Linked DNA regions of Homo sapiens. The protein of the gene in region 2 purifies or fractionates together with the protein of the main gene of each other region. This does not show direct contact. Each region holds a gene or a part of one and is shown on either strand. Other genes may lie near its edges. The genes, in order: CASP14, USP53, U2SURP, BLMH, EXOSC10, YAE1 and SPTBN2.

Evidence for each region.
Region 1: the proteins of USP53 (region 2) and CASP14 purify together in Homo sapiens (affinity purification with mass spectrometry; one large-scale study listed by BioGRID and IntAct). This does not show direct contact.
Region 3: the proteins of USP53 (region 2) and U2SURP purify together in Homo sapiens (affinity purification with mass spectrometry, with the first as the bait; one study listed by BioGRID). This does not show direct contact.
Region 4: the proteins of USP53 (region 2) and BLMH purify together in Homo sapiens (affinity purification with mass spectrometry; one large-scale study listed by BioGRID and IntAct). This does not show direct contact.
Region 5: the proteins of USP53 (region 2) and EXOSC10 purify together in Homo sapiens (affinity purification with mass spectrometry, with the first as the bait; one study listed by BioGRID). This does not show direct contact.
Region 6: the proteins of USP53 (region 2) and YAE1 purify together in Homo sapiens (affinity purification with mass spectrometry; one large-scale study listed by BioGRID and IntAct). This does not show direct contact.
Region 7: the proteins of USP53 (region 2) and SPTBN2 purify together in Homo sapiens (affinity purification with mass spectrometry, with the first as the bait; one study listed by BioGRID). This does not show direct contact.

The regions. Positions count from the first base shown.
Region 1 is NC_000019.10:15,052,055-15,056,052, reverse strand, and holds part of CASP14 (caspase-14 precursor), read right to left. Parts: intron 3,848-3,998; 5' UTR 3,802-3,847; coding exon 3,775-3,801; intron 2,572-3,774; coding exon 2,422-2,571; intron 2,321-2,421; coding exon 2,095-2,320; intron 896-2,094; coding exon 779-895; intron 698-778; coding exon of another isoform or gene 624-697; coding exon 520-623; intron 69-519; coding exon 1-68. UniProt on the Homo sapiens protein: Non-apoptotic caspase involved in epidermal differentiation. Is the predominant caspase in epidermal stratum corneum. Seems to play a role in keratinocyte differentiation and is required for cornification.
Region 2 is NC_000004.12:119,215,578-119,219,918, forward strand, and holds part of USP53 (ubiquitin carboxyl-terminal hydrolase 53), read left to right. Parts: intron 1-1,972; 5' UTR 1,973-2,096; intron 2,097-4,341. UniProt on the Homo sapiens protein: Deubiquitinase that mediates 'Lys-63'-linked deubiquitination of tight junction proteins, such as MARVELD2 and LSR, and which is involved in the survival of auditory hair cells and hearing.
Region 3 is NC_000003.12:143,031,986-143,036,326, forward strand, and holds part of U2SURP (U2 snRNP-associated SURP motif-containing protein), read left to right. Parts: intron 1-798; coding exon 799-961; intron 962-1,285; coding exon 1,286-1,365; intron 1,366-2,902; coding exon 2,903-2,990; intron 2,991-3,996; coding exon 3,997-4,119; intron 4,120-4,341.
Region 4 is NC_000017.11:30,250,641-30,254,602, forward strand, and holds part of BLMH (bleomycin hydrolase), read right to left. Parts: intron 1,594-3,962; exon of another isoform or gene 1,434-1,593; intron 1-1,433. UniProt on the Homo sapiens protein: The normal physiological role of BLM hydrolase is unknown, but it catalyzes the inactivation of the antitumor drug BLM (a glycopeptide) by hydrolyzing the carboxamide bond of its B-aminoalaninamide moiety thus protecting normal and malignant cells from BLM toxicity.
Region 5 is NC_000001.11:11,078,794-11,083,134, forward strand, and holds part of EXOSC10 (exosome complex component 10), read right to left. Parts: intron 4,086-4,341; coding exon 3,895-4,085; intron 3,866-3,894; exon of another isoform or gene 3,741-3,865; intron 2,446-3,740; coding exon 2,289-2,445; intron 2,120-2,288; coding exon 1,971-2,119; intron 1,757-1,970; coding exon 1,706-1,756; intron 1,030-1,705; coding exon 918-1,029; intron 1-917. UniProt on the Homo sapiens protein: Catalytic component of the RNA exosome complex which has 3'->5' exoribonuclease activity and participates in a multitude of cellular RNA processing and degradation events.
Region 6 is NC_000007.14:39,568,882-39,573,700, reverse strand, and holds the end of YAE1 (protein YAE1 homolog), read right to left. Parts: intron 3,196-4,819; coding exon 3,074-3,195; intron 1,425-3,073; coding exon 995-1,424; 3' UTR 820-994; downstream 1-819. UniProt on the Homo sapiens protein: The complex LTO1:YAE1 functions as a target specific adapter that probably recruits apo-ABCE1 to the cytosolic iron-sulfur protein assembly (CIA) complex machinery. May be required for biogenesis of the large ribosomal subunit and initiation of translation.
Region 7 is NC_000011.10:66,687,137-66,691,477, forward strand, and holds part of SPTBN2 (spectrin beta chain, non-erythrocytic 2), read right to left. Parts: coding exon 4,148-4,341; intron 3,148-4,147; coding exon 2,903-3,147; intron 2,808-2,902; coding exon 2,669-2,807; intron 2,045-2,668; coding exon 1,960-2,044; intron 1,714-1,959; coding exon 1,517-1,713; intron 1,176-1,516; coding exon 1,033-1,175; intron 944-1,032; coding exon 868-943; intron 783-867; coding exon 732-782; intron 512-731; coding exon 291-511; intron 32-290; coding exon 1-31. UniProt on the Homo sapiens protein: Probably plays an important role in neuronal membrane skeleton.

The DNA.
Region 1 (3,998 bases), on a different chromosome or scaffold from region 2:
ATTTCAGGGTTCGTTTTCCTTGCTTTTCCTTCTTGAACCAGCTCTGCTTCTGCCATCCGCCGGGTCACCTGCAGCAACAGGTGTGGTGAGCTTGGAGGAGTCAGTGTCATGGACTTATGGGGGGAGGGTTAGGGAACGGGGCAGGTGGGTATTCTTGTCCTAAGATGAGAGACCGTTGTGGCCTCTTCCTATACCATAGTTTGTATGGAATCCTTGGCTGGGCATTTTTTAAATAATTTGCAATAAAAACATATAAACATTAAAAGAAAACAGTTTGCCCAAACATTGTTTATATCCAAGGGGGATTTGTTTATAGAAATTTATCTCCCATACTGTGGCTTTTAAGAGTCCCTGCATTTGGGAAAGTTGTTGGAAAGTGGGCTTCTTAGTTTCTGTATTGAGATCTGGCTTGGATTTGGAGCTGAGGGAAATGGAGAGGGGTTAGGAGGAGGCTCAGCCCCCTCCGCCTGCACCCTTCTTGGCCTGGGCGGTGGTCCCAGCTACCTTTTGTCAACTCACCTCTGTCAGAAGTTCCAAGATATGTCCTTTCCTCTTCGTGAACACATCCACCAGGGTCTGGATAAAGCATGAGCCTTTCTGATCATGTCGGTAGGCGATGTATCCTGGGAATTCCAGAGAGGTGGGTTCGGGGGAGCTTCAGAGGGTAGGTAGAGGGGATCCTGGAAGGGCGTGGGTCCTGGAGGAGAGGTTCAGGAGTTGGGAGTGGCAGGAGAGGGGGAAGAGCAGAGGGATCCCTGGGCCAGCTGGGAGCTCATACCCTCTACCGTGGAATAAACGTGCAAGGCATCTGTGTATGTTGGGATGGTTTGTGGGCTGTCTTTGATGACCATCACAATCTCATCTCCACCTACTGTTTCACCGGGGTCCCTTTGTTCTGAAACAACAAGAAGAGGAGGAGGCAAAGTCAGAGAGAAAGGTAAGGAAAGGGGCTGGGCAGGGTGGCTCACACCTGTATTCCCAGTGTTTTGGGGGGCTGAAGCAGGAGGATCACTTGAACCTGGGAGCTTGAGGCTGCAGTGAGCCATGATTGCACCACTACACTCTAGCCTGGGAGACAGAGCGAGATGTCGCCTCTTAAAAAGAAAGGTAAGGGCTGGGCACGGTGGCTCACACCTGTAATCCCAGCACTTTGGGAGGCTGAGGAAGGCAGATCACCTGAGGTCAGGAGTTTGAGACCAGCCTGACCAACATGGTCAAATCCCATCTCTACTAAAAATACAAAAATTAGCCAGGCATGGTGGCTTGCACCTGTAATCCCAGCTACTTGGGAGGCTGAGGCAGAAGAATTGCTTGAACCTGGGAGGTGGGGGTTGCAGTGAGCCAAGATTGTGCCATCGCACTCCAGCCTGGGTGACAGAGCAAGACTCCGTCTAAAAAAAAAAAAAAAAAAAGGATGCTTTTGTGGTATGCCATGTGCAGTGGGGCTTTTTAATTTAATTTAACTTTTTAGAGACAGGGGCTTGCTTTGTTGCCCAGGCTGGAGTGCAATGGTGTAATCATAGCTCACTGCAGCCTCTTAACTCCTGGGCTCAAGTGATCCTCCTACTTCAGCCTCCTGAGTAGCTAGGACCACAGGCCCATGCCACCATGCCCTTGGCTAATCTTTAATATTTTTCATAGAGCTGGGTTCTTGTTACATTGCTCGACGCTAGTCTTGAACTCCTGGCCTCAAAAAATCTTCCCGCCTGGGCCTCCCAAAGTACTGGAATTACAGGCATGAGCCATGGTGCCTGGCTTCAGCTGGGGCTTTGGATCTGGGACTGGCTTGGATAAAAACACAGACTTGGTTGGGCATGGTGGGAGGCTGAGGCAGGAGGATTGCTTGAGCTCAGGAGTTTGAGACCAGCCTGGGCAACATAATCAGACCCTGTCTACAAAAATTAGCCTGACATAGTGGCGGGAGCCTGTAGTCTCAGCTACTCAGGAGGCTGAGGCAGGAGGACGGCTGGAGCCTGGGAGATGGAGATTGCAGTGAGTTGAGATTCCGCCACTGCATTCCAGCCTGGGTGCTGTCTCAAAAAACAAAACAGAAACAACAAACCACAGACTCTGTGCTCTTGGATCTGTCCCCACCTCCTCGACAGGCCTGTATGATGTACACCTTGGGCTTAGCTCGCAGGGCCTGGCAGTTCTTGTTGTTCAGGGCCTCGAAGAGATTCTCCAGCTTGACCATCTCCCCATCTTCTCCCTTGAGGAAGCCTTCCCTCCCGTGAGCCATGAGTACCACGAAGGCACAACTGACGGGATCTTCCCGGGAATCGATGGCCTGCTGGAATTTTTCCAGCTCTTCCTGGAATTGCTGGAGTGAGAGGAAGAACCAGACTCAGCTGGGTCCCCATAGCCTACACTTCCAACCTAGTACCTTTCCCCCAAACAGGCCTGGAGTAGGCACCCCAATACCTCGGCAGTGGGGTCTCTTTTCATGGTGCTTTCGAATCTCAGCTGCCGAAACATGTGTTCCAGAGCATCCAGGTCTTCTTCGGAACCTTCCCGGGCTTTGGTGACACACAGTATTAGGGCCAGGCGGGCACCTGACATATCATATTTCTCCTGGGGCCAAGAGAAGACAGAAATCAGCATGGAGAGGTTCAAGGAGAAGCAGATGTAGTCAAAAGAGGCATGCAGGCTGGGTGTGGTGGCTCATGCCTGTGATCCCAGCACTTTGGGAGGCCGAGGTGGGAGGATTGCTTGAGCCCAAGAGTTCGAGACCAGCCTGGGCAACATAGTGAGACTCTGTCTCTACAAAAAATGAAAAATATAGCTGGGTGTGCTGCTGTGCATCTGTGGTCCCAGCTACTTTGGAGGCTGAAGTGGGAGGATAGCTTGAGCCTGGGAAGTTGAGGCTGCAGTGAACTATGATCTTGTCACTGCACTCCAGCCTGGGCAATAAGTGAGACCCTGTCTCAAAAATGAACAAACAAAACAAGAGAGGCTTGGGCTTAGGGTTGCCAGGTATAATAGAAGATGCTCAGGTACACTTAAATTTCAAATAAAAACCAAATACCTTTTTAGTATAAGTATATCCCAAATATTGCATGGGATATACTTATACTACATAATTATTTGTTGTTGATGTGAAATTCAAATTGAATTGGGTGTCCTTTATTTTTAGTTCCCAAATACAGCAACCCAACCTGGGGTCCAGCTCTTTTCTAGCTTGGTATGAACTTGGGGGAAGTCACTGCTCCCATCTGAGCCTCAGTTTCCAAATATAGACAATGAGTGTGTGTGTGATTTTGAAGATCCCTTCCAGTTGTCGTATTTTGTGGATTTGCAGGTCTCCTCATCCTCCCCAAGAGTGTTCTGAGCATTCCTCTATTACCTCCTCACTTGCAGAGGTCTCAGAGTTTCTGAAGCTAATACTGAGATCCCGTCTGAGGAAGAAGAATATTGGGGGTCAACAGTTCTTTCCAGAACAGAAGCAGCGTACTGAGCACCCCAGTGGTAAGAACTTCATCTTTTAAAAAATCAACATGAAATTGTTTATTGCAGGACTTCTCAGAACCTTTAATGTGTTGAGAAGAACTTGATCTTTGGAGACAGAGGTAGCTGTGTTTGACTGCCCCCACCACCCAACCCAACTTCGGTTCCATCTCTGAGTCTTTTTTTGCTGTTTGATTGACTACAAAGTACCTCCTAGCTCTGAGTTCAGATCATGATTTTTTCAGTCCCTCCACTCTTTCCAAAACATTAAAATCCTCACCTTCCTTCTCCCCAGATGATCACCCTCCCCTCAACCTGCACCCAGCCTACCTCTTCCAAAGACCGCGGATTGCTCATTTCTCCTTTGGTTGTGAGTCCCGGCTCTCAGCACCCTTGTCTGATCCTTGGAGTCAAGAGAAGATAGGTTAAAGTTCTCTAAAGGGAGGCCGAGGGGCTCAGGGGACAAACTGGCTTATGTATCTGGATTTTTGAGACCAAATAGCACTCAAGTGGTGGGGATTTGGTCTGTGGACAGATCTGGGCAATAGATGATA
Region 2 (4,341 bases):
AGTTTTAATATAATTGGTTTTCTTTGTGATCTTAGTATTTTTTTTTCTTTTTCTTTTTTTTATGCTATGAATTTTATTTTGTTCATTTACAAACATTATTCATAGGGGGCTTCATTAGGCCACCAAAGATGTCCATGATACAAGAAAAGGCTACAAACCATTGCATCTGGCTAAAGAATTATGATTTTACATGAGACTTCAGAAGAGTTGCTTCATATACTCTGCAGTTCATCAGAATTTTTTCTGCAAAATAAACCTTATTCCAATATCTTAGCTATTTTTATGAACAAAATCAGTTATTTGAGGTGTCATGGTATTTTTGAATTAATTTGAAGATAACATTAGTTTTCAATTTTACACATATTACAAAAAAGAAGTTTTAAGAAATACCCTTCCTTTGGAAGTTTTTTACTGCTGCGCTTTTCTGAGTTAGAAGTATTGAATAAACATTATTGACCTCCTATTGTATGCTAGGCATAGTGCTAAACACTAGAAAGTCAAAAGTTAATTAGACAATGTTGGCTGGGTGCTGTGGCTCACGCCTGTAATCCTAGCACTTTGGGAGGCTGAGGCAGGCGGATCACTTGAGGCCAGGAGATTGAGACCACCCTGGCCAACATGGTGAAACCCTATCTGTACTAAAAAATACAAAAATTAGCCAGGCGTGGTGGTGCACACCTGTGGTCCCAGCTACTAAGGAGGCTGAGGCAGGAGAATCACTTGAACCCAAGAGGCGGAGGTTGCAGTTAGCTGAGATTGTGCCGTTGCTCTACATCCTGGGCGACCGAGTGAGACTCTGTCTAAAAAAAAAAAAAAATCATTAAGTAGTTATTTTTCTGAAAACTTATACTTTGGTTGAAAATTTCTAAATCAAGTCTCTGTTGCTGACACTTACTTCAGTCACTTTATCTTTCTTTCTGATCCATTGGCTGTTAACATTTTAACTCATTTTCTCCTTCTCTCCTTTCTAGTCCAGAAAGGTTTTGTAAATGAATATTTACAACAATTCTGTGGTGAAAATCCACTTATAATGTGAAGTATTCCCAAACATTCATTTTATAAATTAGGTTTTTCATATGCTAGATATTCTTAAACTAGGATAGCTCCGTAACAAAATTGCTTATGATTTACTAAGAACAGCTACTAAAATTTTAAAATTAAGAAATTGATATTTCATTGAACAATTTATCTGATCTCATTAATCTGAATTAAAGCAATGGTTAAGTTTAATATATCAGTTTAAGGTATTTCCTTAAAGATAGCAAAATGGAGTATAAAATATATAATACAGCGTCTGCTTTTTTCTAAATCCTTGTTGACATTGTTAAAAATCATTTTACGTGGAAGATAATGTTATTATAATTAGCCTGCATTCGTTGAATGCCTATGTTTTGGCCATTTATTAGGTATTTTATACATGGTTTATGATTCTCACAGTAGCCCTATGATTTTGATTATAGATGATGAAACTGATAGATTTTTAATGATTGAGTAGTTGAGCAATGTGTTGTAAACTTTATATCAGAGGAGGAATAAAATATCTATGGGAATTATAAGGTCACTATCAGGGTATGGATTCCATCCTTGTCAAGAAGCCATCAGGGTATTCTTTGCCCATCAGATACCTCATTCTTTGGCTTTTTCTTAACTCCTCAGCCTGCATAATAAACTGTTGCCCCTCTCATGGTGCCCCTCCCCATACTTAGGTGAGCAGATTGAGCCCTAAATTTTTCCTCCTATATGATGCTACCATATAGGCATGAGATAATGCTCCTCCTTTGTCAGTGTAGTACTGACACTGACCTACCTGCCAGATGGTAGGAAATTGTCCTATACTTTAGTGCCTAGGTTGTCTTTGTTAGGAACACTGTTTTTTCCAAAGGGTTTGTTGTTTGAGATTTTACTTTGTTTCCTGAGCTTCCTTTAATAAATATTTGATGAAAACTTAACCATGCACTGTGTTCTGTTCTAGATGCTTGGGATTTGCTTTACATTCTAAGTGGATTTGGAGAAGAGACAATAAAGAATAAGCAGTCAATTCTATAATATATTTAGAAGGAGAAAAGTGCCAAGGAGGAATGAAAAAGTAGAACAAGGTAAGAGGAATTTGGAAAGCGTGGTAGAGATTGTGATGGTTTGCAATTTTAAATAAGTGTAGGCCTCATTTAAGTGACTTTTTTGGCAAAGCAATTATGAAGGGAGGGAGGGCAAAGCCATGTGGGCGTTATGGGGGGAATGTATTCCAGGCAGGGGAATGGCCAGTGCAAACAATATAGAGAACAGAAGTTTGTATAGTGTGCAGGAATGAGAAGGAGGCTGATGTGGCTGGAATGGGAAAGCCAAAGGTCAAGTAGTTAGATGAGGGGCTGGGCAGATAGTGACATTATGATTTAATTTTAGAAAGATCTCTGTCTGCTCTCCAGAATAGACTTATATGTTACTGTGTAAAGGGTAGAAGCCAGGAGACAAGCTGCTATTTTTTTAATCCACACAAGATGTGATGATGGCCAAGACTAGAATTGTTGAAGTGGAGGTGGTGAAAAGTGGTCAGATCCTGAAATATGACAGAAAAAGGAGTCAAAGATGACATCAAGATATTTGTTCTCAGCAACTGGAAAGATAAAGTTGCCATTGGCTGAGATGGGGAGGAAGGTATAGATAAAGTAAGAGTTCAGTCTGGGGCTTTGTCAAGGCAAATAAATGTTAGGTTATTGCTGGCTTGACATAATTTTCTTCTGGAGATCATGTCTTAAAAGTAGACTGCTGTAAGCCATTTTCTTTAATGACCATGTCCTATATTCTGGATACATGTGTATGCTTGTCTTTTGCTAGTTAGTTACTAGTGGAAACTAGTGAATAGGTAAAAGCAACATGAAATATAGCACGGTTTTTTGTTAGACACAAAGAAATAGAGCAAAAAAGTGGAAACATTGAAAATTACTTAAAACTTACTGTTTTTTTGTTGGCAGTATTATAGTCTTTTTTCTTATTAATTTTATTTTCTGTGTTTTATAAATTTTCTACTGTAGTCTTCTCTAATTCCTCCATTTCTAGAGTGACAATGGTTTTACACATCAAAGAATATTTATTCTTCAATTATACCTTCCTTACTATAATCCTTTAGCTTTATAAACACAGTTACTTCTGTAATGAAAGATATATTTTTTCTTTTTTCTGACACTATCTACTTGAAGATGAAGAGTTTTTTTGTATTACTTCAACTTGGTATAACTCTTCTGTTTGCTATCTAGTTATCTAAAATAAAATCTTAAATACTTCTAGTAAGATGAGCAGTTGTAGCATATCATCAGAAAGTCCTCAGTGTATCTTTGAGGTGCTATATTGTTAGTGAAAAGATGTTAATATGAAGTTTTACTTTACAGTTTGATGGCTAGGACTGTGTACTATTAAGAACATATTTGCAGTGATTCTGTGCTAATATGGAATTATGGATATTTCTAATTTTCTTTATGTAGTATTTCTGTGGTATTTCAGAAATCTAATGAACAAGTACTGTTTGATAATCAAAAAAATCCATACACATAAAAGAACAAAGAGTCTCATGGCTTTATCAACTATTATATTAGTTTCCTAGGGCTGTTGTAACAAAGAACCACAAACTGGGTGGCTTAAATGACAGAAATTTATTCTCTCACAGTTCTGGAACTAGAAGTCCAAAATCCAGGTGTCAGCAGGATTGGTTCCAACTGAGGGCTCTGAATAGAATCTTTCCTTGCCCCTTCCTAACTTCTGGCAGTGGCTGTTCATCTTTGGTGTTCCTTGACTTGCAGCTTCATCCTTCCAGCCTCTGCCTCTGTCATCATTCTCTCTCTTTCTCTTCTTATAATGACTGCTACCAGTCACATTGGATTAGGGTCCACCCCAGTGACCTCATCTTAATCTGATAACATTTTCAAATACCCTGTTGCCAAATACATTGACATTCATAGGTCTGGGACTTGGACATATGTTTTTGGGAGACACAATTCAACCCATAATAGGTATAATGAATCAGGTTTAAGATGCCATTATCATTTACCCAGACCATTCTAGTAGCCTGATAAAGTTATTGGATGTTAGAATTTGAACAAATTCCATATAGTGTCATCCCCTTTTGGGGGAAAACACCTGTTAAATAATTTATATAGCATGGTGAAGATTACCTAACTAATTATGTATTGGGCTTAAGTTTTGGAAGGAGAAAAGATAGTTTGATAGTCTTGTCTAGGGTAATGAAGGAGAGTGGCCCTGGAATCTTGCCTTTTAGGATAAAATTATTGCTGGTAAAGCACTGACTCATAAGAAAACAGCAGTGACTTATTTCCTTTCTTTTCTTTTCTT
Region 3 (4,341 bases), on a different chromosome or scaffold from region 2:
CCCTACATGTTGTCTGGCTGCTTTGGTGCTATGCCAGCAGGGGGATAGAGATCATATGGCCTGCAAAGCCTAAAATATTTGTAATCTTTTTTTTTTTTTTCCCCTGAGATGGAGTGTTGCTGTGTCACCCAGGCTGGCATGCAGTGGCACGATCTTGGCTCACTGCAACCTCTGCCTCCCAGGTTCAAGCAATTCTTCTGCCTCAGCCTCCCGAGTAGCTGGCATTATAGGTGCCTGCCACTGCACTTGGCTAATTTTTATATTTTTAGTACAGACAGGGTTTCACCATGTTGGCCAGGATGGTCTTGATCTCTTGACCTTGTGATCCGCCTACCTTGGCCTCCCAGAGTGCTGGGATTACAGGCATGAGCCACCGCACCCAGCCAGTCTTTTCCTTTACAGAAAAAATTAGCCTGTCGTAATCCCAGGCAGAAGTGTTAAAGTAATAGACTTCCTTCAAAGAAGGGGAGTAAAGAACATGAAAGTTCTTCAGTATCATGGGATGGTAAGACTGGGGTGCTCTTAAAGACGCTTGAAGAAATGCGTATGATTTTAAATTTACTTAATTTGTAAGCTGAAAACATAATTGGAATCTTATTCTACAGAGTATTCTTATATAAATTCTTCAAAAAATTGTAACAATTTTGGGGGACACAACACAAATCAGACTGAATGTATTACAGTCTTCAGAATTATTTTATGTGAGTAGGTTTTAAAGAAATTAGTTTGTGAGCAAAAGCTACAATGGCATTTGAAATTGTATCTAAATATTTATAAGTTAAAACAATTTATGTTCAGACAGAGGGATAAATTGGAAGAAATCTTGCGGGGATTAACTCCAAGGAAAAATGATATTGGAGATGCAATGGTTTTCTGTCTTAATAATGCTGAAGCTGCTGAAGAAATAGTGGATTGCATTACTGAGTCGTTGTCCATCTTAAAGACACCCCTTCCTAAAAAGGTATGGGAATGAATTTTAAGAAAAGGGGAGATAGTTGACGTCTTTTGGGATTAGAATTGGTTTCCTTTTTGCACAAAGCACTTGACTGATGAGATTTTTCCCATGCAGTCTTATGTTATTTCTGCTTGGAAATTTAGGTTCATTAACATACAAGTTAACAAACAAGTTGAAATGTAAATGGGTTAACAAATTTCATCTCTGCCAGAGTCATAGTTGTGGTGATACTGAGCTTCATATAACTCTTCTAATTAGTAGCCATAATTAAATTATAGCTAAACATTAGCCTTATATTAACCTATTTTGTGTTATCTTTTGATATTATAGATTGCCAGATTATATTTGGTTTCTGATGTTTTGTACAACTCTTCAGCCAAAGTTGCTAATGCTTCATATTATAGAAAATTGTAAGTATAATGATATAACTGATATTCCTGAAATAAAGTATTTAAGGGTAAGGAGTTCAGAAAAGAGGATTGTTTTGTTAACATCCTGCAAGAATAAGAAGTACAGTCAGCCCTCCATGTCTGTGGGTTCCTTATCCATGAATTCAACCAACCATGAATTGAAAATATTTGAGAAGAAAAATTGTATCTGTACCGAACCTGTACAGACTTTTTTCCTTGTCATTTTCTAAACAATATAGTATGAAAACTCTACATAGCATTTACATTGTATTAGGTATTGTAAGTAACCTAGAGATGATTTAACAGATGGGAGGATGAGGATAGGTTACAGGTGAATATTATGCCATTTTCAATCAGGAACTTGAGCATCTGTGGATTTTGGTGTCCATGGGAGGTCTTGGAACCAGTCCCCCCATGGATACTGAGGGAAGACTAATTTGAATTTCTTAATGGTTTGTAGAATTTTTTAAAAAATTGGCTTACACTTAAGCTAAATTACCAATTTTTTGGAAAGATTTTATATCATATCACTTTCTTAGCTATTGACAGTATAACAAATAGGTGTTAAAGAGAACTTTATTGCATATCTAGCTATTCATATAATAAATAGAAACAGTGTATATACTGGCAAACATAAGAGACCAAAGACATACTATTAACTATAGAATCTGTGTTCTCTTCTGATCCTCAGCATATTGATTTTAGTTCATTGTAAATGTTTCCTAAGGCAAAAGGAAGTTACGTTGCTGTATTATAATTAATGTATAATTCAGCTGGGCACAGTGGCTCACGCCTGTAATCTCAGCACTTTGGGAGGCCAAGAAGGGCTGATTACCTGAGGTCAGAAGTTCGAGACCACCCTGGCCAACGTGGTGAAACCCCATCTCTAGTAAAAATACAAAGATTAGCTGGGCGTGGTGGTGTGCCTCTGTAATCCCAGCTACTCGGGAAGCTGAGGCAGGAGAATCGCTTGAACCCGGGAGGCGGAGGTTGCAGTGAGCCGAGATGGCACCATTGTCCTCTAGCTTGGGTGACGAGCAAAACTCCATCTCAAAAAAAAAAAAGTATAACTTTTCCTCTGTTCCCCAGAGCTCTCTTTCTGTGTTTATTTTATGAATTAGGCAAAGGGAAGCTTTTCCCTAGGATGTTGCTCTGAAAAGAAATTTAGAGAGCTGGATCCTACTCTTAGGTCTGCTATTAGTTTTTTTGCCTTGGACGAGTCACTTTTCTAAGTTTTCTGTTTTATAAAATAAAGAAATTGGACGAGATGGTTCAGCATATCCTAGATATAACGTTTCTTGCTCGTAAAGGGAACTAGTAGGGACTGTTGGGGAGTTTGTAGGAGAAAAATTCAGAGTAATAAGAGTTCAAGCAATTCAGTTACGGTTTTAGAGTTTAAACACCTAGTTTTTGATTTTTAATAATTTCTTGATTTGTAAGTATTTTAAGTTCAGGAGGGGTTTTCATTGGCTGGCATGCTAAAAGGGAAAGGAATTTTAAACATTTTATTTTAAAGAATGTGTTATTTGAATTTCAGTTTTGAAACAAAGTTATGTCAGATATTTTCAGACCTCAATGCCACCTATCGTACAATTCAAGGCCATTTACAATCTGAAAACTTTAAGGTACGTTTATTGTTTTACTATTTTTGCCCTAGTGTTTTAAATGGGTGGGGGGAGGGCATTGAAGGGCTAGAAAAGTGCATAAGACAAGTATGAGACATAAATTTAAAACTTAGATGTTACAGAAGTTACTGTTTTAAAATTCTGTCGTTTTTGTTTTTATCAAATCAAAAATTTAAAAGATACTATTTTGTCAGGTTTAATTTTAGTTTTAAATATTGTTTAAAAATTATAAATGTTAGTCTTTTTTCATAAAACATACAGAAGAATCACTTGTTTTGTAATGGTATATACTATTTGGCTGGATTAAAGACATACATTTTAATCATGTTTAGAAAGTCTATTCTGTTACCAATTTTTTTATAACCTCTTAAGCTCTAGACCAGTGTTAAGAAAAGCCAAGTGTAGTACTTCACTTATAATTGAATAAGTAAATATGCTTTCATGGGAAGAAGACTTTTTTAAGAAAAATTTTTAGTTTCGGAAGATGCCCAGTGACGCCACCATTTAGGGCATTCAGACAACTCCCATTTTAAAAGTTTTTGACCTTAAATTTTGACCATAAGTTAGAATTTAAAGACAAGTTTCAGGAAGATACAGAGTAAAGTATTAGCCAGAATTAGGAAGTACTTTATTGGACCATAAGGGATTCAGGTCAAAACTTGGCTACTTTGGTTTCCAGTTTTAGTAAGTTTCTATGTAAGTGTTTCTGGAATGTGGCTCATGGGTAGTACTAATGGTATGGGAGCTGACCTTAGGTGGTAAAGAGCAAATAGTTACTGTTTATTTTTCATTATATTTATTTTTAGGGGTTTTTTTCCTTTTAATTAGAAGGTGACATTGATTTTTTTAAAAAATATGGTAATGATATATAGTTATTTTCTTTAAAGTTTAAAAAAACATCAGTTTAAAGGCAAATTTAGCAAATCTTGATGATCATTCTCATGAACTGAAATTTGAGACATATAGCCCAAAATAAAAGTTTGTTGTCTGTTTCCTGTTTCTTTAGCAACGGGTAATGACTTGCTTCAGAGCATGGGAAGATTGGGCAATTTATCCAGAACCATTTTTGATCAAACTACAAAATATTTTCTTAGGACTTGTAAATATTATTGAAGAAAAGGAAACAGAGGTAGGCAGTCTGTATTTGTCTGGTTGTTTTTAAAATTCGTTTCTGGGGTGGAGGTTTCTTGGAGTTGTTCTGTGTTACATATGTGAGGTACATTTCTTTGTGAAAAATATCTATTGCTTACCATTAAGTAGTGGATTTTTATTGCTGGAACCCAGAAGTCAAAATTACATGTAACAGGAATTCTCTGTCTTGTGTCCTTATGTGAAAATTGGTGAGTGTTTT
Region 4 (3,962 bases), on a different chromosome or scaffold from region 2:
ATATAAACTAGTACAACCACTAAGGAAAACGGTATGGAGATTCCTTAAAGAACTAACGATCTACCATTCGATCCAGCAATCCCTCTACTGGGTATCTACCCAAAGGAAAAGAGGTCACTAAATGAAAAAGACACATGCACACGCATGCTTATAGCAGCACAATTCACAACTACAAAAACATGGAACCAACCTAAGTGCCCATCAACCAACGAGTGGATAAAGAAAATGTGATATTTATACATCATGGAATATTATACTCGGCCATAAAAAGGAAAAAAATAATGTATTTTGTAGCAACTTCGATGGAGCTGGAGGCCATGATTCTAAATGAAGTAACTCAGGAATGGAAAACCAAATATCATATGTTCTCACTTATATAAGTTGGAGCTAAACTATGAGGATGCAAAGGCATAAGAATGATATAATGGACTTTGGGCACTCAGGATGGAAGAGTGGGAGGGGTGGAGGGATAAAACAAAGACAACATACCAGTGTACACTGCTTAGGTGCTGGGTGCACCAAAGTCCCAGAAATCACCACTAAAGAACTTATCCATGTAACCAAAACCCACCTGTTCCCCAAAAACTACTGAAAGTTAAAAAAACAAAAACAAACAAATCTGTTCTTTCAGGAACAGATCTCCAAAAAACTTAAATGGGAAAAAAATGCTTTACCCGAGCCATTGCTAATAAGAAGAGCAAAATTAAAGTGAGAGACTGAAGTCCGTATATTTAAAACAAGAATGGGCTGCTGGGCCACAGACAGAACACAGAGCAAACGATGTGTACTGAATCAAGAGAAAGGCAGGCACACACATCCAAGGGCTCCCGGACTAGCAATGGCCATCAGCACCACGACTGTCATCTGACCGTATCTGCTACTTGTTTTATAGTAAACACTGGAGCCATTTTTCTCTGAAAGTTTGTATAAACCTAGGCCTGTGCTATACCATTTCCCACTACACAGGACCAAGAGAACGGAGAAGTAGGTGTTTCTAGCAAGAGGGTCCCCTAGTGAGCAGTTCTCATAAACCTAGGCCTGTGCTATACCATTTCCCACTACACAGGACCAAGAGAACGGAGAAGTAGGTGTTTCTAGCAAGAGGGTCCCCTAGTGAGCAGTTCTCAAGCCTCTTGGCCTCAAGCCCTGCCCTTTACATTCTTAAAATTATTAGGGACCGAAAACATTCTTTATGTGGACTAATATCTATCATTATTTACTATATCAGAAACTAAAACAGAAAGTTAAAAATATTAATTCATTTAAAAATAAGTATGAAAAATGAATATAAACAATATATTTTGAGGAAAAAAATTATATTATGTAAAAAAATATTTTTAGTTAAAAAAGTGGCATTGTTTTACATTTTAATGTCTAGATTTGCAGAAGACAGCTGAATTCCTGTATCTGCATCTGTGTTTAATCTGTTGCAGTATGTTGTTCTGCTTGAAGCAGATGAAGGAAATCCAGCCTCACACAGATATGTTGCTCAAGGGCAGACCCTGCACACTCCCTGAAAGGGCCCTAGGGAACCAAAGATCACACTTTGAGAACTGCTGCTCTTGAGGCAAGACTGGATTAAATTTAAAGGCAACAATACTGGTAAGTCTAATTTTGTATGCTAAAAGGTGTGACAAAGGGCATTATTTAACCTGAAAACACAATTGATTTGGTGAAGTCATCTATGCCCAATCCTGTTTTTCACCCGACAGAAGTCAAAGACAGATCATCCTGACGTGGCATAGCATACGTTTACCCTCAAAAACACTGTGGAGGCCAGGTGCAGTGGCTCACACCTATAATTTCAGCACTTTAGGAGGCCGAGGCAGGTGGATTGCTTGAGCCCAGTTGTTCAAGACCAGCCTGGGCAACATGGCGAAACCCCATCCTCACAAAAAAAAAAAAAAAAAAAAAAAAAATTAGCTGGTGTGGTGGCCTGAGCCTGTGGTTTCAGTGAGCCAAGATCACACCACTGCACTCTAGCCTAAACAGAGTGAGACCCTGTCTTGGGGGTGGGAATGGTAGGGGTTGGGAGTGCTCTGTAAAAGTGTTCAAGTGCTCCGACCAAGGCAGGTAAAGGAATGCACTCTTGTCTCCTGATAAGCTGGCCTCCTGGATCCAGGGCCCCTACTTTCAATAGACGAGAGACGGAAGGACAGTACAGGCCCACTCTGTAGCTACTTCTGGCTTGTCTTGATTATATATTCCAAACTTCCTGGCTTTGTTGGTGTCAGGACCTGGCCCTTAATTAACATCACCCACACCAGTGCCACCAGGTTCTAGCAACAAAAGTTCTGTCCGCTCAAAGGTCAACCAGTGCGTATTATTTAAAACTAAAATACTGCATCCTAAGTGAGTGCTTCCTGAAAAACTAAGCATCTGCCTTCCCAAAAAGGAGCTTTCAGCAAGCAGGAGAGCAGACTAGGGAACACCACACTGTTTGAGACATTAGTCGTCCCTTCCCTCACCACAATGCAGGCTGAATAAATCACTGCAGTGGCCCTGGGCAGTTAGGCAGGTGAAGGATAGAAGCAGATTCATGTAATAAAATTCTGTGTCCTTTCAACAATACTATCACCATACAATCAAATGAATCTTCAAAGAATGCTCCCAGAAGATGGACAATAAGTACATCTACACTATCTTGTTCCAAAAGCATATCAGATTAAGTCCTCACAAATTAAAATTCCTATCAATTGTAACCCACCCTTTCAATGTCCCTGCCAAGAGGACCCGCCTTGATTAGTCTCTCTCTTCAGGATATGAGTTCTTTGGGGACCCACAAAAACCTCACAGTCTAGGTAGCTGCCAAGTAATTGCGCCCTATGTAGATAATGAACTTGTGGCTGCCGTAACTGTTGACACTGTGTGTCTTGGAGTTTGACTGAGAAGATTAGGATCAGTGTGTCTGAAACCTGTGTAGGAAGCAGCAAAGCACCGGCTCAGGCAGGATTCGGCTGGCCCTTTTGACTTGCGGGAAGGTGCAGCTCCTAACCCTTAGACACACTGGCCGTGAGACACAAGCATTCCAAGGAAAAAAGAAAAGAAAACAAAATAAAAACCTGCTCCAGGGATCCCAAGGTTACACTGAGTGAAACACAGACAAATAGATAAAGTCAGCTTTAGGAACTAAGGTGAAATTAAATTTTGTTTAAACTTTAATGTCTTGTTTACATGCGATGAGAAAGAAAGAAAAGTGAACAGTCCTCAAAACAAAACACCTCAAACCAACCAACCAACCAAAAAACACTGGCAACGTTTCTGTATTTTGTAACAGAAAGGGTAGGGTCAGTCTGTAAAGGGAAAAACAGTGTCTGTGAATATAGCTGTAGACAGGTTAGGTGAAATTCATTCAGAAACAGAAGAGTTTCAAATGGGCTAGTTTAAGGGAAAAAAGACGCTTTACCTAAGAAAACTTTTTTTTCTGAAATCCCACCAGAAATGTAAGATTTAAGCCTTTCAGACTAAAGAATACAAAGAATATAAAATATATTTTAACATATTAGAAACATTTTATATTCTTTGTTGTCTTTGTTCTATGAGGAATTTCACCTCACTAACAAACTGTATGTGGCTATTATTTTTTGCCATTTTTAAAAAAGTTATGACAAAATGAAGGTATCTGTTCTGCTCTGACGGTCTGTCTGGCAGCATGGAACTAAGAAGCTGGACTACCAAGGCCTCATTCAGTCACTGCCAATCTTTCACCTGGCAGCTATAACTCAAGGTTGAAGAAAGGCTCCCAGAAAGGAAAGCAGAAGCCTCACTGGCACTTGTCTTATATTTCAAGCTTCCTAATCATCAGGGAGAAACCATTTCACAGAACAGGAATCACTTTATAATGAAGTTGCAAAGACTGTGTAGCAACATGAAGAAATGTTTAGGTGATAAAAAATAGATTAGAGTGGCATATCCAGTATAATTACAACTATGTTACAAATATAGATGCACATGAAAAAAAA
Region 5 (4,341 bases), on a different chromosome or scaffold from region 2:
ACATTAACTGCCTTAGAACAGTGAATTGGCCCAGTTACCAGACAGTACTTGCTGCTGAATCATCAAAGCTAAGGTCATAAATAAAGAGTCTTAGCTCTCAACTATCATAAAAAAAAGCAGCTAAATTCATCAAGACACACACACTGGATTTCCTAAGCCCTATTATTTCCCTAGGGTTGTTTAGAATGCAGACCAGCTCATGAATCTAGGAAGCCACAAGGAATAAGACACTAGCAGAAAAAACAGGCCTGCTAAAGTTGGGCATGATGGCTCACGCCTGTAATCCCAGCACTTTGGGAGGCCCAGGTGGTGGATCACCTGAGGTCAGGAGTTCGAGACCAGCCTGGCCAACATGGTGAAACCCCGCCTCTACTAAAAATACAAAATTAGCCAGGCGTGGTGGTGCATGCCTGTAATCCCAGCGACTCAGGAGGTTGAGTCAGGAGAACTGCTTGAATCCAGGAGGCGGAGGTTGCAGTGAGCCGAGATCATGCCACTGCACTCCAGCCTGGAGACAGAGCGAGACTCCGTCTAAAAAAAACAAAAAACAAACAAACAAAAAAAAAACAGGCTTGCTAAGTTGGGACCCTTCAGTAGAAAATCTTTTTTTTTTTTTTTGAGACGGAGTCTCGCTCTGCCTCCCAGGCTAGAGTGCAGTGGCGCGATCTCGGCTCACTGCAACCTCCGCCTCCCGGATTCAAGCAATTCTCCTGCCTCAGCCTCCGGAGTAGCTGGGATTACAGGCGTGCACCACACGCCTGGCTAATTTTTTGTATTTTTAGTAGAGACGGGGTTTCACCATGTTGGCCAGGCTGGTCTCGAACTCCTGACCTGAAATGATCCAGCCACCTCAGCCTCCCAAAGTGCTGAGATTATAGGCGTGAGCCACTGTGCCCAGCCGCAGAAAAGCTTCTTACCTTGAGCAGGGGCATCTCTCGGGCCTGCTGGATTAAAAGGTGCATTTCGTTGATCTGCTGCCGCACAAGGGGCGGTACTGGGTTGCAGCAAGCTATGATGCCCTGAGGTTCCCTGAAGACAAGTAAGAACACACTCAACTTGTCACTCAGAAACGCAGCCCTTAAAGGCTTCCAGATAAGAATAATGACTGGGTAAAGCCAGGCTGCCACCTAAGCTGAAGCTACAGGTAGGTGACTAAGGAAACACTGATGTCAGGCCAGCCTAGGCCAACTTCTCCATGTGTTCTTTGCGACACCAAGCTTTAAGTGGATCCCTCTTGGAGCCTGACTCCCACAATCAGGGAGAGCTGAAAGTAAGTGCCATAGCACTGTGGATTCTCAATTCCGCAGGGGGCAACCAACGGGCTGTGGATTTTCATTCTTGCTTATACTTCAATCAAGATCACAAAACGTTTAAGATCATGAGCTGCTTTAATTTGGAAGAAAGTACAGATGACAGAATCTGGGACATTTTCTTCCCTTGCAAGTAGATGCTATAAGGCTCAGAGACTTAAAATAAACTCAAACTAAGGCATAATCATTGAAATGATTCCAGTTCAGAAGTTTTAGTGCTTAAATGGCAGCCTGAGGGCAGAAATTCTATATTCCTTCAACTTGCTACCTTCCAAGCTTGGAGCATTAATCTCTGAGTAAGCAGCCTTGGGTAATAGCAACCAGAAAAGCTTGATTTTGAAGAACATCAGATCTACTGAGAAAGTCAGAACATATTAATCAGATTTGAAACTCACTTAGGCAGTTCTTCAGCTATTTTCAGCATCATGTGGTTTGGCAGTACATATCTGGAAAAAAAAAAACACACACACACACACACACACACACACACACACACACACACGGTGGGGACACATTACATTCAGCCAGTAAGTTCCATTAGATGCTGTCACATAGGGGAAATAACCAGCTTTCATAGCAAAAGAAAAAAGCCCATTATTTACTTGTTATTAGATCTCCTCAGTCTGGAAACAAGTATTAAAAGAACCTCTAATCCCTTACCCGTAACTTTCATCTTCCCTGCGAGCTGTTTTATCCCTCCAGGCAAACAGCAGCTGAAAGGCTGTCAACTGCTGTGTGTTAAGGTGCTTCTTCTGCTTCCTATAGAGTTCAAGGTAGGACTCATCCGTGAAGATAGGTTTGATGAATTTCTACAAAGTATTAGAGAACATTCAAAATCAACGGGAATCAAAATTGTGCCCTGGGCTCTGGAAAATGTTTGGCTCTTTTCATGAATGTAAGGAGCAAACCTAAGAACTAGAACCTGGCCAGACACAGAGCCCAAGTGTCGCGGTCTGTGTGACTGCGGCTGAGGTGTACCTTGAGGCAGATGTCCCTGCTCCGTTGCCACACCACCTGCAGCTGCACCGGCTGCCCGTTGCCGCGCTCCCACATCTCCAGCCTCATTTTGTCATAGATATATAGCAGGTAATGGGTGTCATCCCGGGCGTAGCTGAGCATCTCCTCGGGCAGAGGGCTGGAATTGCAGAGGACAATGTTTTACTGATTGCCCCCAAGGACAGCAATTCAATTTGTCTATTCCTTGGGTGCTGGGACTTCCTTAGACCCTTCCAATATGAAAGATCCTTTCATAGTCAATACTGCAGTTATGCCAACATTTCCTGCATTTTAACATGATAAACCATTATTTTAACAGCTGGGTAGAATTGGAGGCAGGGTAATGCGGTGGTTAAAATAAGGGCACTGTCAGCTACTCTGGACACACACAAGAGGCAGTAGAAAAGGGGCCACTGGTGTCCTGAGTTCAAATCTCAGCTCCAGATGTCTGTCCTTGGACAAGTTCCTTAACCTCTTTGGGCTGACCCACCTAACTTGTGAAATGGGAACCAGGTACTTCATAGGCTGTTGTGAGGACTACACAGGACCACATCCTTGAAGCACTTAGCCCAGAGCTTGGCACAGGGTAAGGGCTCCGTAACAGGGAGTGGTTTTTAGATTTTATCAATTTTTATCTTTTATTTGGATTTTATCAGTCCAAATGTAATTTTACTTTTATATTTAGAAATTCTGGCATTCTGGGCCAGGCGCGGTGGCTCACGCCTGTAATCCCAGCACTTTGGGAGGCGGAGGCGGGAGGATCACCTGAGGTCAGGAGTTTGAGACCAGTCTGACCAACATGGAGAAACCTCGTCTCTACTGGAAATACAAAATTAGCTGGGCGTGGTGGTGCACGCCTGTAATCCTAGCTACTCAGGAGGCTGAGGCAGGAGAATTGCTTGAACCCGGGAGGCAGAGGTTGTGGTGAGCCGAGATCGCGCCATTGCACTCCAGCCTGGGCAACAGTGAAACTGCATCTCAAAAAAAAAAAAAGAAAAAAAGAAATTCTGGCATTCTGGCATGTGGAATTCCTGAAAAAGCTCAGTAGCACCTTCCTATGACAGGTGCAACCTCGGAGAGGTAGCAACCAAGCGGAAAACGACCAAGCTGAGCAAGGCCTGCAGGAAGTGGGGCAAAACTGCTACCTTATGCCACAAAAAAACGCTCAGTGTAAAGCTAAACAACAGTGTCCCTTAGAATTCTTTCCCACCTATGGAAGGTCATCTTGCACACACACACACACACACAATCATCCCTACAGAAGATCTTACACACACACAAAATCATCTGGTAGAAAGATCCCAGTTTCAAACAAAAGACCAGCATGGGCAAATACTGGTGCGGCACCTCTTTTTCAACCACTATTTCCATGGAACACAGTGTAACTGCATCAGCCCATCATAAAGTCCACCTTAGCATTAAAAAATTTCCTACCACTTTTACGCTGCTGAAGATGCCTGGCGAAAAGCCTGATGCCATTCATCTCAATGAGCGTGGTAGGGCTCAAACCCAGGTCTCTCTGGACGACAGGTTAATGAATAATCACTTTCTTCTGCCACCCACATTTCCTCAGTAAGAGCAAACTGACCGTATTCTCCAATCAGCCAGCTGATATTGCTTGTTTGAGTCCACGTTGCAGTAGAGTTTCAGGAGATGATCGAGTGAGTGCCTGCCCAGGTTAAGAAGGCGTGCTGCCTGATGAGTATCAAACATGTTTACTACATACAACCCAAAGTCTTTCTGTAGCCATTCTATGTCTGAATCAGCACCATGAAAGACCTGAAAACAGAACCAAAGTCATGCAGTACACTGGTAGCAGGCCACTCATGCTCAGAAATTAACTCTGCCTCTAGTTTATTAGAACACTGAAATTAGAAGGTAGTCTCCGCTGTCCCATCTGTAGTGCAGTGGTGTGATCTTGGCTCACTGCAACTTCCGCCTCCCATGCTCCAGCAATCCTCCCACCTCAGCCTCCCAAGTAGTTGGGACTACAGCGTGCCACCACGCCCAGCTAAACTTTGGTATTTTTTGTAGA
Region 6 (4,819 bases), on a different chromosome or scaffold from region 2:
TTCATCTCAATATGCCTGTCTTTCAGCTTAGATGGTAGGTATAAATAGGGGTGAAAGAGCAATTAAGGCTACCAATGAGGGACAATTATTTCAGTGCCTTTGAAGTCAGGTATCTCATATAAACTTGTGTTTCAGGTGAATAAAAGTGCTGAGAAATCCTCTCCTGATTCTGAGTTTAGATCCTGGAGTAAAAATTTGAATCTAATTTTGTCCATGCTAGACTAAGAATATTACCTCAAGGTAATATAGAAGTCAGTGGTTTCAGTGTTTTACTCCTATGTGAATATGAAATATACTGCAGTTTAAAATAATCTGGCACACTGTTAGGCAATATTACTAACTCCTTACTACTTAGAAAAACTAAGTAGGCATTTTCCTTAGACTTTAGCATAAAATATATTTTCTATGTTTTTCATAAAACTGAATGTCCTTACTTTTAATTAACACAAAACTAAAACACATTTTAGTATTTTGCTGTTAACCATTTAATCAACAGCATAAACACTGCTTCAGTTTCTCACAGTCTCTTAATTTCAATATATATCTACATATCTATATCTATATATCTGTCTGTGTGTCTATATTTACGTTAACTATTAAGTTATTTTTATAACTTTGGTTTGGTGAGGTCCTGACCACCTAATAGTGACAGGAGGTAGAAGTAGGGGTAGGTCCTTACAAAATATGTTTAATTCTTGTTCACTTTTGCTAATGAGTCTGAAAACACTTCATTTTGACCACAAGTTTGGAAATGTCAATGACAGTAGAAATTTCTGACCATATCTTAAAACTACATAAAAATTACCAGTGACAAAGAAAAAAGGCTTATATTACATTTAATAGTGTTAATTTTGAAGACAATAGTGTTAATTTCAAACTTCCATAAAGGGTAACCCTACAGTTGAGGTGTTTGATGCAGAAACCAGTACAAATTTCGATTGTTAGGAAACCAAATGTTCTGAACATTATTTTCATTAGAAAAGGGAAGGTAATTTTATAGTTGTTTGAGGTGTTGTAATACATCTACTGATAGGCCCAGCTGTTTAACTAAACTGGCTGTCTGTTCCAAAATCCATGTGGGGCTTGGGTTTTCTGAATGTGCATGCTCCTGTGTTCTACAACATTCTACATATGAACAATCTATCCCACTATGGCTCTTGCTACAGTTTTTGTTAAACTCAGCATTATTTTCACAGAGTCTTTCATCTTTAGCTTCATCAATCTTTTTCTCAGCTGGAACTACATGACAAAGGTCCATATCCTCAATGGAGTCCAATAAATCTACAACATGGGACGGTGGAGTGATTGATTTCAGATGTTTGAGCACATACTCTTCACACTGGCCAACTGCATCCAGAAGATTGTTTATTTTATTGATCAAAGTTGAATTATTATTATGAAGGTGACACCAGGAGAGCAAAGCACTGAACAAAAGTATAAACAAGGGTTAAATAGCAAAATAGGACTTAAAAATATAAGACTATCTTTCAATAACAATTAAACGATTGGACTTAATCATAAAACTGTTTATAATTCATAACCCCTCTTTCATAACTCTATATACGCTTTTCCTGATTTTATATTTTTCTCTTATGACTATGTAATATCTGTTGAAGATGAATACAACTCCGAGAAAGAAAAATTAGTTTCTTCTTTAAGGACATTAAACAGCTTCTTAACTAGCAATTCTCAATCATGGATGCACATTAGAATCACCTGAAGAGCTCTGACCCCTATCAAGGCCCAGATTATACTCCACACCAATTAAATCAGAATCTCAGGGGGTATCTTTTTTTTAAGTTTCAGAGTTAAGGTGCAACCAAAGTTGAAAACCATCGTTCTAAGCACATAGTTGCTTGCCATCAAGAATGAAGGTTAGAGAAAAGAAGTTTTCAAGAGACTTCACTTTCCTGGGCTTATGTCACAGAGTAGAAACTGTTTGCTGAACTACTAACAATTTCCTTGAAAAAGGTAAAAATTCTTCTAGTCCTAACAGATTTAATATTATAGTCATGTCATAAAATAATGATTATTATGAAAAGTATTTAAAAATAGAATCCATTGATATAAAAGATTCAGCAGTAGCTTTCTAAGGTTATGTAACATCAACTTGATGATGTGAATATTCACATTGTTTTCCTACTGTAGCAGACTAAATTCTGGTTCCTAATAGTTGGATTTTCTAAAATCCCAAATACAATAAATTTTTCGGTTTGTTTTGGTAACTTTTATCATCTACTCTTCTTTAAAATTAGCGATTCTTTGAAGCATTTTTTTTTTCTCTACCAAGGACAGTGTAAAGGGTATAAAGCAGGGGTGTCCAATCTTTTGGCTTTCCTGGGCCACATTGGAAGAACTGTCTTGGGCCACACATAAAATACATTAACACTAATGATAGCTGATGAGTTAAAAAAAAAAAAAAAAGAAAAAAGAAAAAATATCATGAAAAAAATTTCATAATGCTCATATTGTTTTAAGAAAGTTTATGAATTTGTGTTGGGCCATATTCAAAGCCGTCCTGGGCCACATGTGATATGCAGGCCACTGGTTGGACAAGCTTGGTATAGAGCATCAAACTGGACAAGGCTGCTAGGCTCCTGGCTCTGTGTATCATTTGACCATTTGGCTCCGATATATGCCATTATTGCAATGGCATCCTGACAAGTATTCAATGTTCAGGACTAAAGTAAATTAAATCAATTTTATCTTAATTACCAACTATTTTCATCATGTACTTCTAGTCTAGAGGTCTGTCATACTGTGTGGAAGTACTACAAGTTTTATTCAAAATCTGAAGACCTTTCAATGAGATAGATAATTGTTCAGGTAGCAGAAGTATACATCTTCTTACCATTTCTTTGCACGAAAAGACAATATGTAGTTCACACATTAAAGTAGATGAGCTGATAAAGATTTTGACTTTTTGAAGGCAATATAATTCTATGATCTGCGACACGCTTTAGTGTATTTAGCACCAGGAAAAGCATTTCAGTTTAAACACTTTATTTATACAGAAACATCCTCCAGTAGTATTGAGGTTAAAATGATTCAGCATTTAGACTTTAAAAATTACCTCAATGTTCCTCGGAGTCGTCCATAGTTTAAAATGACTTCTGCACCTTTCTTATAACCTTGATTGAAGCCCTGTTGAAGAGTAACTGCTTTGCCAGCATCTATTCCATCTCTATAACCTTCCTAAAAATAAGTAATGGAGAAGTGCAGCTGTAACTAAGTATATACATGTAGGCTTTTCTAGAAAAGTACAGAACCAATTTAGAAAGCAGATGAATTAGGCCTTTACTGTGTTACTGACCATAATATGGCATAACAATATAACTAAAGCAGACTATGCTTCTCCTAAGTTTATTATTGGTTTATCATTACTTATCCCACTTTTGAAGTCTAGAGTTACCGGGCAATTTTTAAAACACTGATAGTCACAGTTTTTAAAAAACCTAGTGTTGGGCCGCCACGCTTGCTGTGAGGTGGGCAAGCGGCAGACATGGCACCCTCCAGGAGTCTTGCAGTTCCGCTGGCAGTCCTGGTACTGTTGCTTGGGGGTGCTCCCTGGACCCACAGGCGGCAGAGCAACGTACGCATCATCACAGACAAGAACTGGAGAGAGCTGCTGGAAGGAGGCTGGATGATACAATTTTATGCCCCGTGGTGCCCTGCTTGTCAAAACCATTAACCGGAATGGGAAAGTTTTGCTGAATGGGGAGAAGATCTGAGGTTAATGTTGTGAAAGTAGATGTCACAGAGCAGCCAGGACTGACTGGACAGTTTACAATAACTGTTCTTCCTACTATTTATCATTGTAAAGATGGTGAATTTAGGCATCCTCAGGGTCCAAGGACTCAGAAGGACTTCATAAACTTTATAAGTGATAAAGAGTGGAAGAGTATTGAACCCGTTTCATCATGGTTTGTTTCAGGTTCTGTTCAGATGAGTAGTACGTCAGCACTCTTTCAGCTATCTACGTGGATCAGGACTTGCCATAACTACTTTATTGAAGACATTGGATTGCCAGTGTGGGGATCATATGCTGTTTTTCCTTTAGCAACTCTGCATTCTGGACTGTTACTAGGACTCTGTATGATATTTGTGGCAGGTTGCCTTTGTCCTTCAGAAAGGCACACACCACAGCCATACCCTTCAAAAAAATTATCAGAATCTGCTCAACCTTTGAAAAAACTGGAGGAAGAACAAGAGGCGGATAAAGAAGATGTTTCAGAAGAAGAAGCCAAAAGTAAAGAAGGAACAAAGACTTTCCACAGAATGCCATAACACAACACTCTCTGGGTCCATCACTGGTCACAGATAAATTGTATAGTTATCTTAATATCATGATTTTGATAAAAACAGAAGACTGATTATTTCTTTTGGTTTGAAGTGAACTGTGACTTGCTTGTATATTACAGCATTCAGTCTAGATTGTCATTAAATTGAAGACTCTACATTCAGAACATAAAAGCACTAGGTATGTAAGTTTGAAATATGATTTAAGGACAGTATGGTGGTTTAACTAGTTCTCTAATTTTTGAAAAATCTTGCCAAACAATAAGATTTATGTATATTTGTTTAATAATAACCTGTTTCAAATCTGAGTTTTGAAAATTTACATTTCCCCAGTATTGCATTATTGGGGTACTTAAGATTATTTTAGAGAAAAATATTTCTCATTTGATATAATTTTTCTCAGTTTCATGTGTGTGAAAAAAGGAAAGTATTTCCCATAAATGGGAACTTTGCCCACTGTCTCAAGAAATATATATTTCAGTGACAATTCCGTGGTTTTAGAGATATATTCCAAAATTTC
Region 7 (4,341 bases), on a different chromosome or scaffold from region 2:
CCGCAGGACACAGTACACGTTCTGCCAGGACCTGCGAGGGACGCGGTGCTGACTGGCCGGCCTCAGTGGCGCCCGCAACCTGGAGCCCTCTTGGGTGTCCTAGGACTTCCAGTTCTGCTCCCATCTTTAGGCCACGGTCTTCACACCCTCTGGTCCTCCCCTGAGGCCCCGCTCTGGTCCCAAGTCCTACCCTTTGCCCAGAAGATGTACTCTAAAGGGCATCCCTCCCTCTATCTGGGCAGAGGCTCTGGGGAAGTGCCCTCTGAGAGCAGGCTCCAGAGAGGCTGTACCTGTTGGCAGCCTTCTTCCCGAAGGCCTCCATCTCCTGCTTGCGGCACAGCATCCCCTCCATCTGCTCCTGGGCAGATGGCTCTGGGCCTCGAGGCGGCAGGGTGGCAGCATGGGCTGACTCGGTAGACCTGCTCTGGGGCATTGCAGATGGGGCCGGGCCCCGAGTCCGGGTCTGCCTCTCTCCCCGGGGCCCATTGGCTTCGTCCCCTGAGCCAGGTCCCTGGGGGGGAATCAGTGTCAGTGTCAAAGGTTGAGACGGGAGATCCCTAACCTGGGTGCCAGGAAGCTCCGTGTCCAGGAGTTGGTCTTCCTGCCCCCAAGCTGCCTGTGAGCCTCTGCCCTCTCCCATCCCATCCCCAGTACTCCCCCACCCGCACTCACCACCCCCTCTGGACCCTTCGCCTCACAGTTATCAACACCACACTTGCAGGGGAACTCACCGGCCCTTCGGGGAAGCTGCTGTGCTCAAGTCTCTGTTGTCCCAGCAGGGGCTGCAAGGACAAGAATCTGTAAAAGGATGTGCGGGGGTGGAGGGGCTACGACTCCGATGGGGGCACAGAGGGACAGTGGGGTCACCTGTGAGGGCTCTCCATCTGTGCAGACTCCATTAACACTGGGTGCTTGTGTGGATGGTGGTGGCCGTGGCTGGGTTCTGGGATGACCAAAGGCAACACAGAATCATTAGTCCCTGGGTGGCCTGGGCTCAGCCGCCTCCTCCTACCCAGGCATCCTGGCTCTCACCCGTCCCAGGTGGTGTCAGAAGCTGTCTGGCCGCCCACCAGGTCCCCTGGAGGCACACTGGCTGTGGGTTCGGGAGCAGGCGGCTGTTTCCGCCGCTCCTCCTCCTCCCTCTTTCTCTTTCGCTCCTTCTCCCGCTCCTCTAGCTGTCAAAAAATGCTGCATTCAGCGTGTAGAAGGTTGCGTGTAAGAGGGCCAGGGAAACAGGGAGAGCTGAAATGTCTCAACTCTAATTTGATGAAATATGATAAGAGGAGAACAGAATTTGAGAAGATGGTGGGGACAAGAAACAAAGCGGGAGAAGGTGTCTCGGCATCACCCAGGGGAACTGACACCTCCTAAAGGTGTGGTGACAATGGCACTCTCAGCTCACATCTGGGGGCCACTGGTGCAGTGGGAAGAGAGAAGACATGTCTTCTCCAAGCAGAAGCCAGCACAGGTCAGGGGAGCAGGTTGGAGTGGGCATCCGGGGTCCTGTGTCCCTCACCGCAGTAAGCTTCTCCAGCGCACAGAATCGCTCCTCCCAGGCCACTGCTGACTTCTGGAAGGCCTCGTGCCGCTTGATGAGGCTCTCAACTTCGTCGACCGTGCAACCCAGCTCAGCGCTGCGCACCAGTGGCTCCTGGCTGCAGAGCCAGGCCTCTGCCATCCCTGCATCTCTTCCAAACACAAGCACCTCCAAAACTGGCAGGATCGGGGGTTGCAGGAAGATGGTGGGTCAGAGTGGCCACTGGCAGGGCACAGTGGCCATGGCAACCTCAAGAACAGGGACACAGAGAAAGCCACTGCCCCAGAGCTGTGCCAGGCAGCACGAAGATTGGGCATCGTGAGTTTCACACCCAGGGTTCCTAGTCTCACCTACTCTGGAACCCACAGGGTGCAGGATGCCCCCCACTCCCCACAGGGCCTGGGGCCCCCTTGGCAGCTCACCCAGCTGAAGCCAGTCCATCTTCTCCTGCCACTTCTCAGCTGTCTCCTGGCGCCGTGCCTGCAGCTGAGACAGCTTCTCTGAGATCTGGGGGCGGGGGGCAGAGATATGAGTTAGCACCAGGATGTGAGATCTTTCCACGGCCCCTGGGGAGTCATCCAGGGGGACAGGTGATTTCTTTCTTTCTTTCTTTTTTTTGAGACGGAGTTTCGCTCTTATCACCAAGGCTGGAATGCAGTGGCGCAATCTCAGCTCACTGCAACCTCCACCTCCCAGGTTCAAGCAATTCTCCTGCCTCAGCCTCCGAGTAGCTGGGATTACAGGTGCCCGCCACCACGCCCGGCTAATTTTTGTGTTTTTAGTGGAAACGGGGTTTCACCATGTTTCATCACAGCCCAGCCACACAACCCATGGAGGCCAGGCTGGTCTCGAACTCGTGACCTCAGGTGATCTGCCCGCCTGGGCCTCCCAAAGTGCTGGGATTACAGGCGTGAGCCACCATGCCTGGCCCAGGACCAGTGATTTCTGATGTCAAGAGGCAGACGGTTCTGGGGAGAGATTTCCAGAATGCGAGAAACCCGTGAATGGCACTGAGGGGAGAGAATGAAAGGTTTCTTGCAAAGAGAGAATGAGAGGAAGCAGAAAGCCACCAAGAAGTCAGCGTTCAGCACTGCACAGTGAGAATGGCCCGGCCACCCAGGCCTCACCCACCTCCTCGGCCGCATAGTGGCTCCTGGCCAGCAGCTCCTTCCCCATGTCGATGCAGGAGGAGAAGCGGTCTGCCCGGGCCTCTATCTCTGCCTTGATGCCTTGCTGGTTCTTGATGACTAGATCCGCGGAGGACACATCCCTGGGGGGAGGCAGAAACAGCATCACCTGCTGCCCACAGCCCCATCACAGCCCAGCCACACAACCCGTGGAGGCCCTGAGCCCTGGGATTCTCACCGGGGACGCTCCTGGGCATCCATCTGCAGGTTGACCTCATCCATCCAGAGCATCAGTTCCCGGACAGCCTTGAAGAAGCGGAACTTGTCTGTGGTGTCCAGCAGCAGCTGCCGGCGGGCGGCAGAGCTTCCCTGAAGCTGGGCCCAGGCCTCGGCCACGGCCTGCATGTGGCGGCCGATCTCCTCAGCCTTGTCTCCAGCGTAGGCCTTCTGGAGCCGGTGGCCGTCGTCCTGCACCTGCTGGACCTGCGGAGCCCCGGGTCAGAGTCAGGCAGAGCGGGGGACTCCAAGGAGCCGCAGCCTGCCTCAGTCCTGGCTGCCACTCTCACCTCCTGCCTGTCTCACAGCCAAAGAAGCAGGGGGAGGAGCCAGGGAGTGGGGGTGCTGGGAAAGATGAAGGCAGGGGCTGGCCACACTCTGCCCTGTTGGGTCTCATCTAGACACCTGGGCTTAACTGGGGGAGGATCTGGAAAAGAGCCATTGGCCAGTTGAACTTTCAGAGGCCTGTCTAGGATGTGATAGACCTTGGAGATTGCTAGAACGTGCTACTTAGCCTGAAAAGGGGATTCAGGCAGGGGCTGATGGGTTCTAGTGGTTGAAGGAAGGATCCATGCTTACTGAGTGTGAGCCTAGAGCTCAAGCCTGGGAAGCACTAACAGGCTGATTTAGCGCAGCATGAAGAGTCTCCTGGCCACTGGGAACCCCTGAAGACATCATGGGCTCTCAAGGGGGCTTGTCATCAAAAGTGTGAATGCAGTGGCTAGATGTCCCCTGCCAGAGATGTTTTCTTTCTTTTTGAGACGGAGTTTCGCTCTTGTTGCCCAGGCTGGAGTGCAGTGGAGGGATCTCAGCTCACTGCAACCTCCGCCTCCTGGGTTCAAGTGATTCTCCTGCCTCAGCCTCCTGAGTAGCTAGGATTACAGGCATGCGCCACCATGCCTGGCTAATTTTGTATTTTTAGTAGAGAAGGGGTTTCTCCATGTTGGTCAGGCTGGTCTCGAACTCCCAATCTCAGATGATCCGCCCTCCTCGGCCTCCCAAAGTGCTGGGATTACAGGCGAGAGCCACCGCGCCTGGCCAAACAGAGATGTTTTCTTGGAGCAATTTCCTCATCTCGAAATGGCCCTCGAAAGAGTGCCGTCCTCCCAGCATTTCTGAGCTCTACCCTAGCTCCTGGGAACTCTCCCCGGCATTTCCCCCATGGCCTCCTCTAAGCCTCCCCCACCTCCTCATGCTTGGGTCAGACCTGGGGGCTGAGGGCCTGAATGTCATGCTCGTAGGCACAGTGTCGGCGCTGCAGGGCCTCGGCAGCGTTGAGGTCGCGGCCAGTCCCGTCCGGAAGCTGCTGCTGCTTGTGCTGCACCCGCGCCAGGGCTTGGCGTGCCCCGTGCAGGAAGCGCTGCAGCTCGTACGCCGCGGCCAGCACCTGACCCCGTGTGT